Linked DNA regions of Homo sapiens: region 1 is linked to region 2. A link means that fine-mapping ties the variant in region 2 to the expression of a gene that starts in the linked region. Tissue or cell type: whole blood. Region 2 holds a variant in brackets; the other region holds the start of a gene. All regions are shown on one strand. Distances are between the middles of the regions.

Region 1 (8,000 bases), 28 kb before region 2:
ACCCAAGATTCCACAAAACGTTAAGGAACTGGAGGGTAGGGGCACAGTAACAGAGAGCACGTGAAAATGAAACTGATACAAGGATCAAGAAATTCACCTTTAGACGACTGGAGTCCAGCCGCAGGGCTGAGAGTAATGGATCCAGAGATTCAAACTCTGCAAGAACATGGCTGTAGGACTCTGGTATCACTGGCACAAAAGCCATTTAGCCAGAAAGCTGAAACTTGTTGAATGATAGATACAGTATTCCTCACCTGAATAAAATCCACAAAAATATAATTTAAGAAGCCCACCATTCATTTAACATGCATTTAACAAATATGTGGGGAACATAGAGAAACATGAGAAAGTCCCCACTATACAGGGACTTAGAAAGAAAACACATAAGGTAACATCGTATGCCACAGTGTGTTTACATTGTGTCATTCCCTGACTCTAAAACTCCCAGAGTAGCAGGTACGGATTCTCAGGGCCCTCCATAAGCCTATCCCCCTGTATTATCTAACAGTGTGAGTAAACAGAATAGGTAGAGTAGGATTTAGGAAAATTGGCATATCACCCTGAGTTAAAACAGCAACCTTGCTGCTGCATTTCTATGAATACTAAATCTTCTGTCTTTAGGAGTCTCTCATTAAAACGCAATCTTCTGTAAAGGCCTCAACTTATTAACTGTTATCAGCAAACCCTACAGTTATCAGCTAACAATTTAACAGTGGTTTATAGGAATAGGCCACTAGACTTCTCTCTTCAACCGAGCAGGGGCTTAGTAAGTATGGTGAATGAATGAACAGATCTACTAAGTGAGAAGGTACAGGGAATTAGAGCACAAAGAAAAATAAGCGCTTCAACAAAAGAGACTAGATAGGACAGAATACGGATAAGAATACAAGGTAACAAATGCCAAATAACCAGTGAGGACTTTGTAAAGTAACACGAAAGTTTTTATGTGTTCACCTACTCTCAAATGCACTTTTTTGTCAACTTGCACCAATCTCCAGAAAAAAAGAAAAGAAAATTCTACTCATTAATTATAACTTTTCTCAATCACTTGTTACCTGCCAAATTTAGAAAGCCAATGAATACAACAGAAAAAGTCATGAACTGTTTATACATTCTTGTTGTTTGTTCATGCTTTACGTTTTTGACTTTTTTTCCAGAAACATATATATTCCATCACTCATTTATTCAACAAATTTGTACTGAGCACCCACCTACGTGCCAGACATTATTCTAGGTCCTGGAGATGATAAAGTTCTAACCCTCATAGAGCATACTTTCTAGTGGCAAAACGAAGACTATATTTTTTATTGCACACACATAACACAATCTTATTTTCTGCTAGTAACACTGTTCCTAATACACCTTGACCTCTGCAAGGAGAATGTTCAGGAAAAAAAAAAAGAAAAAACCCAGAAAGAAACTTTCACATGCCTGTACTCAAAATATTTGAGAATTATTGACCTAAGAAAATCTTCCCTCATTGTTTTCACTCATTCATTTCATTGAGTACCTAGTAAAGTACCAGGCACAGTGGTAAAAATAAGACAAGTAAAATAATTCCAGAAGTCAGTCAGTTTATAATACGGAGGAAAAGACAAATACCACACACACACACACACACACACACACACACACACACACATCTTATAAGGGAAACATAAGCAAACTGCTTTGTTAGAACTTTACAGGACAGAGGGATCACATTGAATTAAAGGGAACTGAAGAAAACGCTCTAAGGAAAGTAGTACTGATGCTGACTAGGCTTTTATCTCAAGGAAAAGGGAAAGGGTAGCAGGTAGGGTAGCAATAAGCAAATATATAGAGAAGAAAAAAATGCAGAATATACTAGAAGAATACAAATTTAGTCTTTGGTTGAAACAGGATACAAGCAACGGAATAATGAAAGATAAAGCTGGAATCTTAATTTGGGCCCAAGTTACAAAACACTTTGAATTTCAAACCAAAGAACCTGAACTTAACTTGGCAGGCAACAGAAAGGAATTGAAGAATTGTGTGTTGGGAGGTCACACAATTTCTGTAAAGTGCTGTGGGTGGTTAGATGCTAGAAAACAAAGACTTGAGAAAACGGGTGGGTGATATGAAAATGAGGATAAAACATTTCAATTACTCAAGAAGTCTGGTGGAAAAGGAGAAAACCTCTCTTGACGTTATTATTGGGGAGACTCTTCAACAGATTTGTAGGTAGTAGCTAAAAGTAGAGTCTAGAACGAAAGGGACTGAAGATTCAAGAAAAAGATAAAACCATGGTACAGGATCCAAGAGATGGAAAGGAATGATAATATCATAGTGTCTCTTCTACTTGTGATCTTGAAACAAAGAAACTCTGAGTAGGTCATTTTGCCTTAATCTCGGTAAAAAGAGAATGTCCTGGAAGTTATAATATAATGCGGGGGTGTGCAGGGGGACACACCTAGTAAGTTCTACTGAAAAGAAAAAAAGAATTTAACAGAAATGAGAATGGAAAATAAAAACAGCATAAGCAATGCCAATTCTCAGAGAAGCTGCTGAATGACAGTGTTAAACCAACTTCAACTTTATACTTTATGTTTACTCTCCCTGAAATGACTGCTTCCCTTCCAGATTTTCTTATCCAAACATACCCAGCTTTCAAGATCGCACATGAGCCCTACTTCCTAGAATTCTCAAGATGGAAAAAGATTCATAGGTAATTCAGTGAACATGTCCACCTAATTCAGAAATTAGTTTTGCCCTAGATCCCTGAACATTTTCAGCCATGGAAAGAAAGCACTCACTCTCATGAAGCTGCCAATTCCAGTCCTCCAAAGGGCTCACTATTATAAGGTTCTTTTTAATACTATGCTGAAGCCTGATCACTTAGAGCTCTACCATTATTCCTAATTGTATGTAGCTTCTACAGCTGAAGGGAACAAGCTGTCTCTTTCCAAAACAATCCTTCTGTATTTGAAAAGCATTATCAGGTCTTCTAAAAATTTAACATTCCCAGTTTCTTCATCACTCCTGACATGACATTTTCCAACCCTCTGTTCCAGTCAACCTTCTACAGAGGCACTGTAGTTTGCCTAAAAATGAGGTGCCTAGAACTGAGCATAATACTCCTTAAGTAGTTAGATGAGCCCAGAATAGAGTAGAAACACTAACTTCCTGGATCTAGACACTAAGTTTCTATATTACAACCTAAAAACAGTATTAGTTGTGTTTAAGTGGCCATGTTACACATTGATTCAACAGAGCAAGTGGTCAACTAAAACCCAAAGAAATTGTTTACATAAATAAAATCTTCTTAGCCAGTAGCTACATACAGTAGAACTGAGCTCAAATTGAAAGCTGCTATTAATCAAATGCAACAATGGATATAAAAAGTACCTAGAAATGTACAAACAGTATAAAGAGGAACAGCAGAATGCTGATAATTGTTCAAGTTGCGTTAAGTGTACATGAGGGTTCAATTTATTATCCTACTTTTGTCTGCGTTTGAAATTTTCCACAATAAAATTTAAAAAATATATACATAATATTGTACAAGCCTTCAACAGCTCTATTTCTTGAAAATCTGTTATCTCCTCCCTGCTTCTTTTTCCAGCCTTATTTCCCATCTTAACCTCTCTATTCTCCAACTACATTGGACTCGACTCTTTTTTTCTTTTTCATTCCATAAACTTGCTGTGCCTCCATGGTTTAATATATGATGTTTATGGAATCTTCCCCCATTTACCAAAACCCTACCTTTCTGCAAAGCTGAGTTTAAATGTTACTTCTGTGAAGGCACTCTACCAAAAACTAAGAACATAGAAGTTGGCGACAAATGCTTAACCAAAGTAAATGAAACAACTTTTGGGAGACTGGCTTGCCCAAGGATCACAGAGTTCATAAATGGTAGAGCTGAGATTAGAATACGCGTCTCCTGAATCCAAATCTCATCTTTCCATTATCGTAAAATAGTTCAGTGTTTGTTGCTCACACATCAAATGCAAACATGTTTCTCTTTTGCCCCAGTAGGTGCGTGGAGGAAGAGGAGAAAGAAGTAAGAAAGATAGCAAAAATTGAAGAAATGAGAAGGGGAAGTTGCAGACTGCCTCATTTTCACAATGGGATCTTTCTATCCAAGAAGAAATGATCAGAAAACAACTCTCTGCCTCAGACAAATGGCGACTGACTCATTTATACATTCATTCATTCAACATTCTGAGTGCCTACTATGTTCCAGGACCTGAACACACCGCTAGAGACACAGGGATGAACAAAACACAATCCCTACCCACAAAAAGCTCCTTGCCTAGTGGAACTACTACCTTTTTAACAGCAGTAACTTTAATATCTTGAGATTTCTTGAGAGGAGACCCAGTAACCAATTTTCAAAGCCAGGCTCACAGACCAGCAGCCCGGAGGTCCCAGCCCAGCTCCACCACATCCAGGGCAGTACCTCGCAGCTCTCAGTAGATCGGATCTTGTCTCCCGGCTTAGCGCCGGGGAACTCACCGCGCACTAAGAGCGGAACGTGAACTTCAGTCTCCCCTCGCGTTCCTCCCCTTCCTTGCTGACGTCATCCAGGAGAGCCGCAGACTGGAAACAACGCTACTAACGGCACTTCCTCATCACGTGACGAGTCACGCCCCTCCTTCCGCGTGGTCCCTCCCCCTCAGGCCGCGGTCGCGATTACGCTCTCTACGGCCTGCGACCGCAGGGCCGTTGCGGGCTGGAGACACGGCGCCGACTGGAACCGGAGGAGCTCTAGGCCAAATGGTTGGGCCAGCCAGGATCCCAGGACCCTTCGCCGCTCGAGACCGGAGAGAGGAAACGAAACAGGCGGGAACCCGTGGGGGAGGGAGGGAACTAGCGGAAGGTGTCATGGCGGCCGCGCTCTTGAGTCACGTGCCCAGGGCCCGCCTTGCTACTTCCGGTCACGTGCCCTCAGACTCCTCGCAGCCAGCGATGGAGGCGAGACCCCCTAGTAACAGAGGCGGTGGCTACTGCTGCGGCCACTGGGTTTCGGCCTCTTCCCAGCAGCGGCTCTAAGAAGCGCAGCGGAACTCGACCGGATCCAACCCAGTTAGTTACTTCCTGTCTAGAGTTGTAGCTTCCACCTGGTAAGTTTAGACCGAAGAATGCAGGCGGGCGGGTGGGTGGGCGGGTGAGGAGCTGACAGGCCTGGGGGCCGCTGGACGGCGTGGATTCTACCCCTGTTCCCAGCGTCGCTGTCGCCGTCCTCCCAACGCCCAAGCCTGGCGTCTTGTTTGCCCTTATCCCGAGGCGAGGAAGAGGCGACCCCTAATCTACTTGTCTAAAGGAAACCTGCTCTTAAATTGAGAGCAGGTTTACCCAAAGCCAGGATCAGATTTGGCTTATGAGAATGAAGTGGAGGCCTCTCCCAGACAGAGAAGCCCTTCCCGTCAGGAAATGTGCTGTTGAGTCTGGGATTCTGTAAGAGAAAAGCTGTCACCTTGTTGTCTGCACACCTTTTGCTTCCACCTGTCAATCTTACCTCTCTTAAAAACCTTAACACGTGCCAGTCCACACACTCCTAGTTTTGGTCATTTGATTGTCGTGTAATGATGAAAAATAGACCATGAGTACCTGGATATATGTAATTATTTTGTAAATCCCCCAGTGTTCTCAAAGGCCAAATTAAATAAGGAGGTGACTTTTCTTATTTTTTTTTAAGAGACAGAGTCTTGTTCTGTCGTCCTGGCTGGAATGCAGTGGCGTGATAATAGCTCACTGTAACCTCGAATTCCTGGGCTCAAGCGATTCTCCTGCCTAGACCTCCCAAAGCGCCAGAATTATGCTACAGTGCCTGGCCCCAAATGACTCCTAAACTCCAATTTTAGCATCAGTAAAATGGGGATGGGGAAAGAAGATATGAAAAATACACCCTTTGTCCATTTGAAGACCCAGTCTTAAAAACAAAAACAAAAAAAAAACTGAGTGGTTTGAATGAAATGTGCTTTGCAGTGAGTATTGACTCCATACAAACCAATATCCAGACTTGTGATTTTCAAACATTTTAAAGGAGTGGAACAATTTCTCCCCATGAATTTTTATCTGGAACCCAATATATAAAGCAGCATGCTCTGGTGGAACTAAATTTAAAAGGGCCAGGCCCCACCACCCCACTTAACTTCTATCCTAGAGGCCACTCCTTGGAACACAGTTTGAAAACCACTGAACTGGACTTAGGTAATTAAGCCAAAGTTGCCAACCTTAAGATTTTTTAAAAGACAAAACCAGAGCAGTTGAGATGGAGAGGTCACAACCGCAGGGAAGGTAACCTCTAGTAGCAGGCCTTGGACTTAGAGAAGGACTAAACTCTGGAGAGAACTTTGTACCTGTTAGCAGGCTTAAGTCCCTCATTCAGAAAGGAGAAAAAAGAGATGGTCTGCTATCCTCACTCAGCCGACATTTTTTTTTTTTTTTGAGACGGAGTTTTGCTCTTGTTGCCCAGGCTGGAGTGCAATGGCGCGATCTCTGCTCACTGCAACCTCCATCTACCGGGTTCAAGGGCTTCTCCTGCCTCAGCCTCCCCAGCGGCTGGGATCACAGGCGCACGCCACCATGCCTGGCTAATTTTTGTATTTTTGGTAGAGACGGGGTTTCACCATGTTGACCAGGCCATTCAGCCGACTTGTAGCAGTGCAACAGATTGGTAAGTTTGAGTCTCTCTTAGGTGATATAAAATACACATTGCAGTACAAATGTGAAAAAAAATCAAAGCAAATTCAGAGAGGGCTTTTGAAAAATACTAGGAAACTTGGTGCAGTGTGGGAGAAGAATCAGTTAAAAGTAGTGAAGCCAGCGACCAGCACCAGTCCTGGGTTGTGAATGCTTCCTGTGTGTACTGCCCTCAAGGCTTGTAACTTCTCCCTGCTGGTACCATGTGTCCTGCCCTCTGATAACCTGCTTCTCTGTGCTATTTTATTCCCTACCATCAGAATGTTGTCTGGCATACCTTGAGCTTTCCTAGCATTTTGGCCACCATTTATCTCTGCCTTATGCATACTGCTGATAGAGATGTCTTTGTGCCCTTCCTTTCTCTTTCCTGCCTTCAGTGTGGCAGTATCAGCCATTGACCTAGTAGTTCCTCTTTTCACCACTTTGATTACCAACTGATTACTCTTCTCTCAATTTTGGTAATATACTCTTGTCAGCATGCAGTATTTATTAATGGATATGAGCATATTTTCTTCTGTCATGCATCTCTGTCGCATTTTCCTCCTGCCTCTTCCCTGCACTGCTGTAAAATGTACAAGTGCTCAGTCCTAAAATTGCCACATCAGTTATTCTCCTTAATATCTTCCTTGTCTGTGAAATTATCCTTAAAACAGTACATTTTGGTCACTCTTTACATACTTATAAAGTTATTCCCTTTAATGCTGAATTGTTCAAACACTTTTGGATTGCTTGATGGCAAGCAGCATTCCAAATCTCCATTTTTGTATGCTGGCAGATATAACAGTGCTCTCTAGTAATCCTTCTTTCAGAAGATTTCTCTTTCACTTGTTGCTCCCTATCTCCTCTCCTCCATTTATCTCTTGCACATTGGAAAAGGGGATGTAGGTAATGGAAATGCAGAGGTGCAGTAATGTAAAGATTTGTATTCAACCAGTTCATATTCTTCCTTATCACTGTTGCCTTTTAAGAGCAAGATCCAGTTATTAGAATCTGTATGAGAAATGGTACATTGATCTGTGAATTGAAAACTATAGTGGTTCCCGGAGTTTAGGCAAAGATGTATATGCAAAGATTCCTTATTATGTCTTAGCAAGAGATTGTATTCTTTTAACAGCAAGATCTTAAATGATGTCATTGATACTTCTTGGACTCTTCTTATAGGCCAAACACTATATTACTGGGTGCTATATTACAGAGAACCCGACATATATGGCCTCTGCCCTCCCTTATGAAGCTTGCAATCTGTCAGGAGACGTGTACATTAAAAGAATCACATTAAAAATTATGTTGTTGTAAGTGCCATGAAGAAAATAATAGGAGACTTTAGCTGG
Region 2 (8,000 bases):
TCAGCTTCCTGAGTAGGTGGGATCATAGGCACACACCACGCCCAGCTAATTTTTGTATTTTTAGTACAGGGTTTCACCACGACCAGACTGGTCTTGAATTCCCAACCTCAGGTGACCCACCCACCTCAGCCTCCCAAAGTGGTGGGATTACAGGCGTGAGCCACCACACCCAGCACATATGAGTTTTTTTTTTTTTGAGACGGAGTCTTGCTGTCACCCAGGCTAGAGTGCAGTAGCACCATCTCGGCTCACTGCAGGCTCTGCCCCCTGGGGTTCATGCCATTCTCCTGCCTCAGCCTCCTGAGTAGCTGGGACTACAGGCGTCCGCCACCTCGCCCGGCTAATTTTTTGTATTTTTAGTACGGAAAGGATTTCACCGTGTTAGCCAGGATGGCCTCGATCTCCTGACCTCATGATCCACCCGCCTCAGCCTCCCAAAGTGTTGGGATTACAGGCGTAAGCCACCACGCCTGGCCCATATGAGTCTCATGATCTTTCTTTCACCTTTTTAGCCTCACCAATTCCTGGACCACCGTTATTAGTGTATTGAACCATATACAGTCTCATGACACAATATGTACTACATTGCTGCTTTGCTTGTGTTTTGTTTTATTTTTAAATAGAGACAAGGTCTCACTGTGTTGCCAGGCTGGACTTGAACTCTTCGGCTCAACAGTTCTTCTGCCTCAACCTCCCAAATAATCAGGACCACAGTGCCTCTTTGCCTTTGTTTAAGCAGTTTCCTCTCCCTGAAATGTTATTGTCTCCGATCTACTTGGCAAGCACCAGTTTATCTTATGGTTCTCTGTGAACCTTTTTCGAACCCTCTTCTCCAGTAGGATTGATTAGTAATTCTCTCCAGCCCAGCTTCCCACTAACTAGTATTTAAGCTCCTATGGCATGGGGTCTTAATCAATTTTGTATCTACATGGTCTAGCAAGTAGCGTGCACTCAATACATGTTTTAAAATATAATCTCATTTTATTCTCTTTTATCCTACTTTATAGAGCTTGGAAAAGTTTATCTTGCCTAGATTAACGTTAGAAAAAGAATTTGACTCTTTATCTTTCTGAATCCATAGTCAGTGTTTTTCTCACTATATTCTATTCTTTTTATTTACTTTTTTTTTTTTTTTTTTTTTTGAGACAGTCTCACTCTGTCACCCAGGCTGGAGTGCAGTGGTGCAATCTCAGCTCACTGCCACCTCTGCCTCCTGGGTTCAAGTGATTCTCCTGCCTCACTCAGCCTCCCCAACAGCTGGGATTACAGGTGTGTGCCACCATACCTGGCTAATTTTTGTATTTTTGATAGAGATGAGGTTTCACCATGTTGGCCGGGCTAGTTTTGAACTCCTGACCTCAGGTGACTCGCCCACCTTGGCCTCCCAGAGTGCTGGGATTACAGGTATCCTGACTCTATTGCTTTTATTTAACGTTTTGATAACTAGATCCAAATTGTTCTTTAAAAGAGAAATGCAGACCACGCACGGTGGCTCACACCTGTAATCCCAGCACTTTGGGAGGCCAAGGTGGGCGGATCACTTGAGGTCAGGAGTTCAAGACCAGTCTGACCAGCATGGTGAAACCCCATCTCTACTAAAAATACAAAATATTAGCCGGGCGTGGTGGCAGGCGCCTGTAATCCCAGCTTCTCAGGAGGCTGAGGCAAGAGAATCACTTGAATGCAGGAGGCGAAGGTTGCACTCCAGCCTGAGCAACAGAGCGGGACTCCATCTCAAAAACAGAGAGAAATTCAGTTTAAGATGTATTTTGTAATGCTAAAACGAGTTAGTGCTATTTGTTAATCTTTTATGTGCATAATGTCACTTGTTTTTAAATGTTTGTTCATAAATATTTAATGTTCGTGAGAAGTAATAAAAGTCCCATCATCCAGCAAATTTTTTCAGCTAAGCGTGTCTTATAATAAGAAAAGCAGAACCTTTTTAAAAAATTTTTAATCTATTATTTCTCACAGGGCTATGGCATTTCCTCTGTGCCATCTGCTTCCAATTCTAAATCCATAAAAGAGAATAGTAATGCTGCCATCATCAAGAGATTTAACCATCACAGTGCCATGGTCCTGGCAGCTGGACTCAGAAAACAGTTAAGTATAAATGCAGAGGTGCAGTAACTGGGCTTTTCAGGATATCCAGATGGAGTTGTGGTGTTGTTTTGCTTGTGGTTTTTAACGTTAACTTTTTTTTCCCCTTTATTTTAAGAGAAGCACAAAATGAACAAACTAGTGAGCCCAGCAACATGGATGGAAATTCCGGAGATGCAGACTGCTTTCAGCCAGCAGTCAAAAGGGTATGGGCAAAAAAATATGAACCATTTGGGGCTCAAGTTTCTCCAAATACTTTATGTGACTGCAAGTACTGTATACGCTTATTTCCTGTGACTCAGTTCTTCTAACTAAGATGTTAAGCATTTGGCTTAAAGTGTATAGCATTACAAAGAGTATTTCCCCAGCTTTGGCTTGCCAGCCAACTTTCCATTGACTCTAGCCTGTTAGCCATTTTTATTGTTTTTTGTTTGTTTGTTTGTTTGTTTTCCTCACATGTACACATACATACAGATTGTTCTTATATGTGATTTTGTTCTCTGGGAATAAAATCTTCATTCAACAGAGGCAATATGACAGAAAAACCGAAGTTTCATGTATATGATTTTTCAAAGAAAGTGAATTGGCCCTCATGTTAAACCTAGCATTTCAGAGCTGAAAGTGTCTTCTCATTAAATATTGAAGAAATCATTTGAGGGTGTGGAGAAGGATGGACAGAATTAGCTGCTTGTGTATTTATTCTTCTCCTGCAACTTTGCCACGCTATTTTGTACCTCCCTTCCTAATTATGATAAAGCTTTCTTAGAGAGCAGTCAGGCAATGTGTATTAAATGTTTAAAGCTTTACACCCTTAGTTCTACTTGTGGACATTTATTTCTTAAGAAAGATGTATACTAAGATTTAGATAGAAATATTCATTACAGTATCATAATAAAGACAGTAGCAAGGATTCTGTTATCTGTGTTGCATTAATACAATAGAGATTGATGCAACTGTTCATTATTTTGAAAGCATTAATGATAATATTGCATCAAAGAGTTCACTGAACAGATTGTACAGTACAGTTTTACACACAAAAAAAATAGTTTGTGAGCTTTAAAAGGGCCTTCAAATGAATATGCTAAACGGTTATCTTTCAATAAAGAGAGTATGGGTAAGTCTTAATTTCTTTCATTTATTTCAGTAATTTAATGTTTTTGTTGTTGTTATTGTTTGTTTTTTTGAGACAGAGTCTTGCTCTGTCACCCAGGCTGGAGTGCAGTGGTGCAATCTCAGCTCACTGCAATCTCGGCTCACTGCAACGTCTGCCTCCTGGATTCAAGCAATTCTTCTGCCTCAGCCTCCGGAGTAGCTGGGATTACAGGCGTGCACCACCATACCTAGCTAATTTTTGTATTTTTAGTAGAGACGGAGTTTTGCCATATTGGCCAGGCTGGTGTTGAACTCCTGGCCTCATGTGATCCGCCCATCTCAGCCTCCCAAAGTGCTGGGGTTACAGGCATGAGCCACTGTGCCAG[C/A]CTATTTCAGTAACTTAATGTTTTTACAGGCATGTATTACCTATAAAATTAATAAAGCCAGTGAGGTATTTCTTTTTTGAACTAAAGCAAAGCTAATAATAAGTTATAGAGAAGTTAGAGAAGAAATCTATTAAGTGATACTTTCTTTGTATACTGTTGGGCTGAGTACCCTTGATTCTTGGTGGTGAACAAGTTATCAGAAATTTCTTGGCCAGGAGCCGTGGCTCACACCTGTAGTCCCAGCACTTTGGGAGTCCAAGGTGGGTGGATCACTTGAGGTCAGAATTTCTAGATCAGCCTGGCCAGCATGGTGAAACCCTGTCTCTATTAAAAATACAGAAATTAGCCAGGCATGGTGACGTGCGCCTGTAATTCCAGCTACCTGGGAGGCTGAGGCAGCAAAATCACTTGAACCTGGCAGGCGGAGTTCGCAGTGAGCTGGGATCGCGTCGCTGCACTCCAGCCTGGATGACAGAGCAAGACTCCATCTCAAAGAAAAAATAAAAAAGAAATTTATTTACTTGTGTGAATTTTTACAATACAGATGCTTCTCGACTTAAATGGGGCTACATCCCAATAAACTCATAAGTTGCAAATACTGTAAATCAAAAATGCATTGAATACACCTAATGTATGGAACACCATAGTTTAGCCTATCCTACTTTAAATGTGTTCCGAACACTTAGATTAGCCTGTAGTTGGGCAGCATTACCTACTATAAAGTGTATTTTCTAATAAAATGTTGAATATCTCATGTAACTCATTGAATACTGAAAGTGAAAAACAATGTATGGGTACTCAAAATATGGTTTCTCTACTGAATGTGAATCACTTTGACACCATCATAAAGTTGAAAAATTCCAAGTCAAACCATTGTAAGTCAGGGGCTATCAGTATTCAGTGGTAAATGCTGGCTCTAACTATTCTTCCAAGTCAGTGGTTGACTGCTGTTTATTCTATAAAGGGTTACAATTTATAGATTCTCTCACTTGTAGAATGAGAGATTCAGAATTAATAGCAGACAGAGTCCCTACCTTGATGGAGCTTTCATTTAAGTGTGAAAGTCAGGTGACCTAACAAGGCCTTGGCATAAGTTTAGGATTTGGATTGTTATGGGAGCTTGGGTAGGGACATGTCATAGGTAAGGCAACAGCAGGGGTAGAGATAAGCTTGACATATGTCAAAAATCATGAAGACATCAGTAATCCTTGAAGTTGGCTGAAAGGTATAGAGTTGAGAAAGTAGTTAAAAAAAAAAAAGTCAGGCTGAGTCTAGGTAAGGATGTGTTTCTCTGAGGTCAGATTTGTTCCTGTACCATAAAGGGACTATTTAGAATCTTAAAGCTGGAGCAATTTAAAACGTTAAGTTTTCAGATTGAGGTCAGATTTGTGACTTCATGTGAGGTCAGATTTGTTCCTGTACCATAAAGGGACTATTTAGAATCTTAAAGCTGGAGCAATTTAAAACGTTAAGTTTTCAGATTGACGTTTTTTGAGGTATAGTTAATAACCTGAATGTTCTGATTCTAGTCTTGGTAGTCAATAAGAGTTGACCAGATGAATTTCATAGCTTTGTAGAGGATGAAATATTTCAAGGCTGATTTGCACAAATGTTTACATAGATCATGTATCTTTCATAAGTAATATGTTTGTATTATTACAAGGCTGTAAAAATTTAAGCAGGTTGTTAATAGCACAGGGGGTAACAGATTAATAAAATTAATGAATAAAATTACTAAAAGAGTCCAGAAGTAAACCCAAATACGTGGAGGAATTAAGCATATGTATGATACACATGACATTTTAAAAATCAGTGGGAAAAGGTAAATTATTTTACAAATGGTGTTAGAAGCACTGATTGATAATTTTGTTAAAAGAAACTTAGATTCCCTATTTTACTCCTAATCCAAAATAAATTCTGAGTGGATCTAAGATTAAGCAAAAATTAAGCCGGAAGCTGAGCATGGTAGCATGTGTCTGTAATCTCCGCAATTTAGGAGACTGAGTTTGGCTGGGGAGGTGGTGATATGCGCCTAGAAAAAAAAAATTTTTTAAGCCACAGATGTATAAGCAAAAAGCGGGCAAAGAGGCGGAATTTTTTTTTTTTTTTTTGATGAAGTCTCACTTGTCGCCCAGGCTGGAACGCAGTGGCGTGATCTCAGCTCACTGCAACCTCTGCCTCCCGGGTTCAAGCGATTCTCCTGCCTCAGCCTCCCAAGTAGCTGGGATTACAGGCACCTGCCGAGGAGAGGATTTTTTTATAATTAAAACAAAACAAAACAAAAAAACACCAAACTGGAAGATAAAGTATTTACAACATGTAAAAGACTGTTTCCTTAATATTTAAAAGTCTTATTTTTTAAAAAGTACCCAATATAAAAATAGTGGAGAGCATAACAGATCATTCATTTGGGGAAAAAATAATAAAATGTAAACTTTCACCTACCAGATTGGCAAAAGTAAAAAGTTCAATAATACTTCATGTGGTCAGAGTGTAAGAAAACTAGTATTCTTAAGTAGTTGTTGAGAAAATTGGTTCAGCCATTTGTAGGACAGTCATCTCTAGGAAGAGAAGCTCATGGTGGGAAGACTTCATTTTTTACCCTCTGTACAGTTTTGTTTTTTCAGTCATGTTTATTGTGTAAGAGAAAGTTGTGACAAAATAAAAAGTACTGTGTTAATAATTATAGGCGAAATTACAAGAGTCCATTGAATATGAAGACTTGGGGAAAAATAATTCTGTAAAAACGATTGCACTAAACCTCAAGAAGTCAGATAGGTAAGTTTGGTCAATATTAAGCAGAATAGCTATGTAACAATTCAGTCCAAAATATATCCTACAAGTATAGCACTCATGTTTTAATCAGTTCGTCACCATCAAAGTACAATATCCTTTTCTGTTTAAAATTTAGGCTTCTCAGGAAGCAAAAATGATCAAACCCATGACAATAAATGTGGATCTTTCTGCTGTTGCTTTCTTATTGCCCTTATGGGAATTAAATTATTTTATTGAAATCTCTTTACTTATCGTTTCTTGCCTTGAGGGGAACTTAGTACTGACTGCTAAAATGTTGCAAAGACAAATGTTGAGCATCTTTACTGTGTGTGATTAGTAATTTCTTCTGTGCTAACCTGCAGGTATTATCATGGTCCAACTCCAATCCAGTCACTACAGTATGCAACAAGTCAGGACATTATTAATTCTTTTCAAAGTATTAGACAAGAAATGGAAGCTTATACACCCAAGTTAACTCAGGTAGGTGACTTCTACTGTTTGAAGGCCAGAATTCCCATAGTTCCTTCCTCAGTTTATGAGCACAAGCAGATTGAACCATACAACTAATATTTTAATTGGGCTTAAAGACATAGTTCTGCTAAATAAATTGAAAAAATCAAGAGGTAGCAAGAAAAGGTGTTTGGCATATTCAAGAGGCATCTGAAGATAAGATGATAATGAAAAAAAATAAGTTGATGAATTTTGTGATTTTTACTTCCATATACTTTTATTGGGAAAATCTCCCAGGTTTCCAAATTCTGTCTGGACATTATTCTCTGAATATTCTGCATGACTCAGGCTTAAAATATGTAAAACAGCTCATCATTGTTCTTTGTTTCTCTTCGTACTTCAGTTGATCAGCAATTTGTCAGTTCTGCCTTCAATAATACTTCTTGATTCTATCACCCTTATTTAGGCAAACCTGATTGATTTTCCATAATGCTACTGCAAGTTGTCTTTCTAAAATCACTTATTTTGGCCGGGCACAGTGGCTCACGCCTGTAATCCCAATACTTTGGGAGGCCGAGGTGGGTGGATCACGTGAGGTCAGAAGTTCGAGACCAGCCTGACCAACATGGTGAAACCCGTCTGTACTAAAAATTTAAAAATTAACTGGGCGTGGTGGCACACACCTGTAATCCCAGCTACTCAAGACGCTGAGGCAGGAGAATCACTTGAACCTGGAAGGCAGAGGTTACAGTGAGCTGACACCGCGCCATTGCACTCCAGCCTGGGCGACAAGAGCGAAGCTCCATCTCAAATAGATAGATAAATATTTAAATATTTAAAAATAAAAACATGTATTTTATCACTGCGGCTTGAAAACCTTCACTGCCTCCCTTCACTGCAGTAGTCTGAGTGCCTTTGTCTGGCCTGCAAAACTCTTTATAGTCTGGCCCCAGCCCACTACTCGAGTCTCATCTTCAGCGATAGTCTCCGCTACTCCCTTCCACACATGGCCAAGGGTTCCAGCCTAACACACTAAGCTGTCCAGAATCTTTTGATCACATTATCTCCTTCATGCTTCCTGTGCTTCGGCTTATGCTCTTTCTCTTTAGAATTCCCTTAGCCCTGTTTCTCCCCCAAGGAACTAATAATTACTCAAGACTCAGCTCCAGTTTCATTGCCTCTGGAAAGTAATCCTTA

What was found. PIP is the estimated chance that this variant, and not a neighbour inherited with it, causes the effect.
Region 1: it holds the start of GTF2H1, and the variant in region 2 is fine-mapped to the expression of GTF2H1 in whole blood (INTERVAL, PIP 0.98).

What each region holds. Positions count from the first base shown.
Region 1 is chr11:18,317,654-18,325,653 of GRCh38, forward strand. It overlaps GTF2H1 (general transcription factor IIH subunit 1), which reads left to right and starts at 4,914. Exons shown (of 15, transcript NM_005316.4): 1 at 4,914-5,087. It overlaps HPS5 (HPS5 biogenesis of lysosomal organelles complex 2 subunit 2), which reads right to left and starts at 4,487. Exons shown (of 23, transcript NM_181507.2): 1 at 4,293-4,487; 2 at 98-254. The coding sequence starts at 205. RefSeq lists enhancers at 3,985-4,934, 4,072-5,271, 4,162-4,461, 4,472-4,891.
Region 2 is chr11:18,345,614-18,353,613 of GRCh38, forward strand. It overlaps GTF2H1 (general transcription factor IIH subunit 1), which reads left to right. Exons shown (of 15, transcript NM_005316.4): 8 at 1,975-2,102; 9 at 2,219-2,306; 10 at 6,268-6,356; 11 at 6,716-6,833. It overlaps LOC105376577 (a long non-coding RNA gene), which reads left to right and starts at 3,504. Exons shown (of 2, transcript XR_007062611.1): 1 at 3,504-4,874; 2 at 4,982-6,266. The variant C/A (reference allele first, on the strand shown) is at 3,579.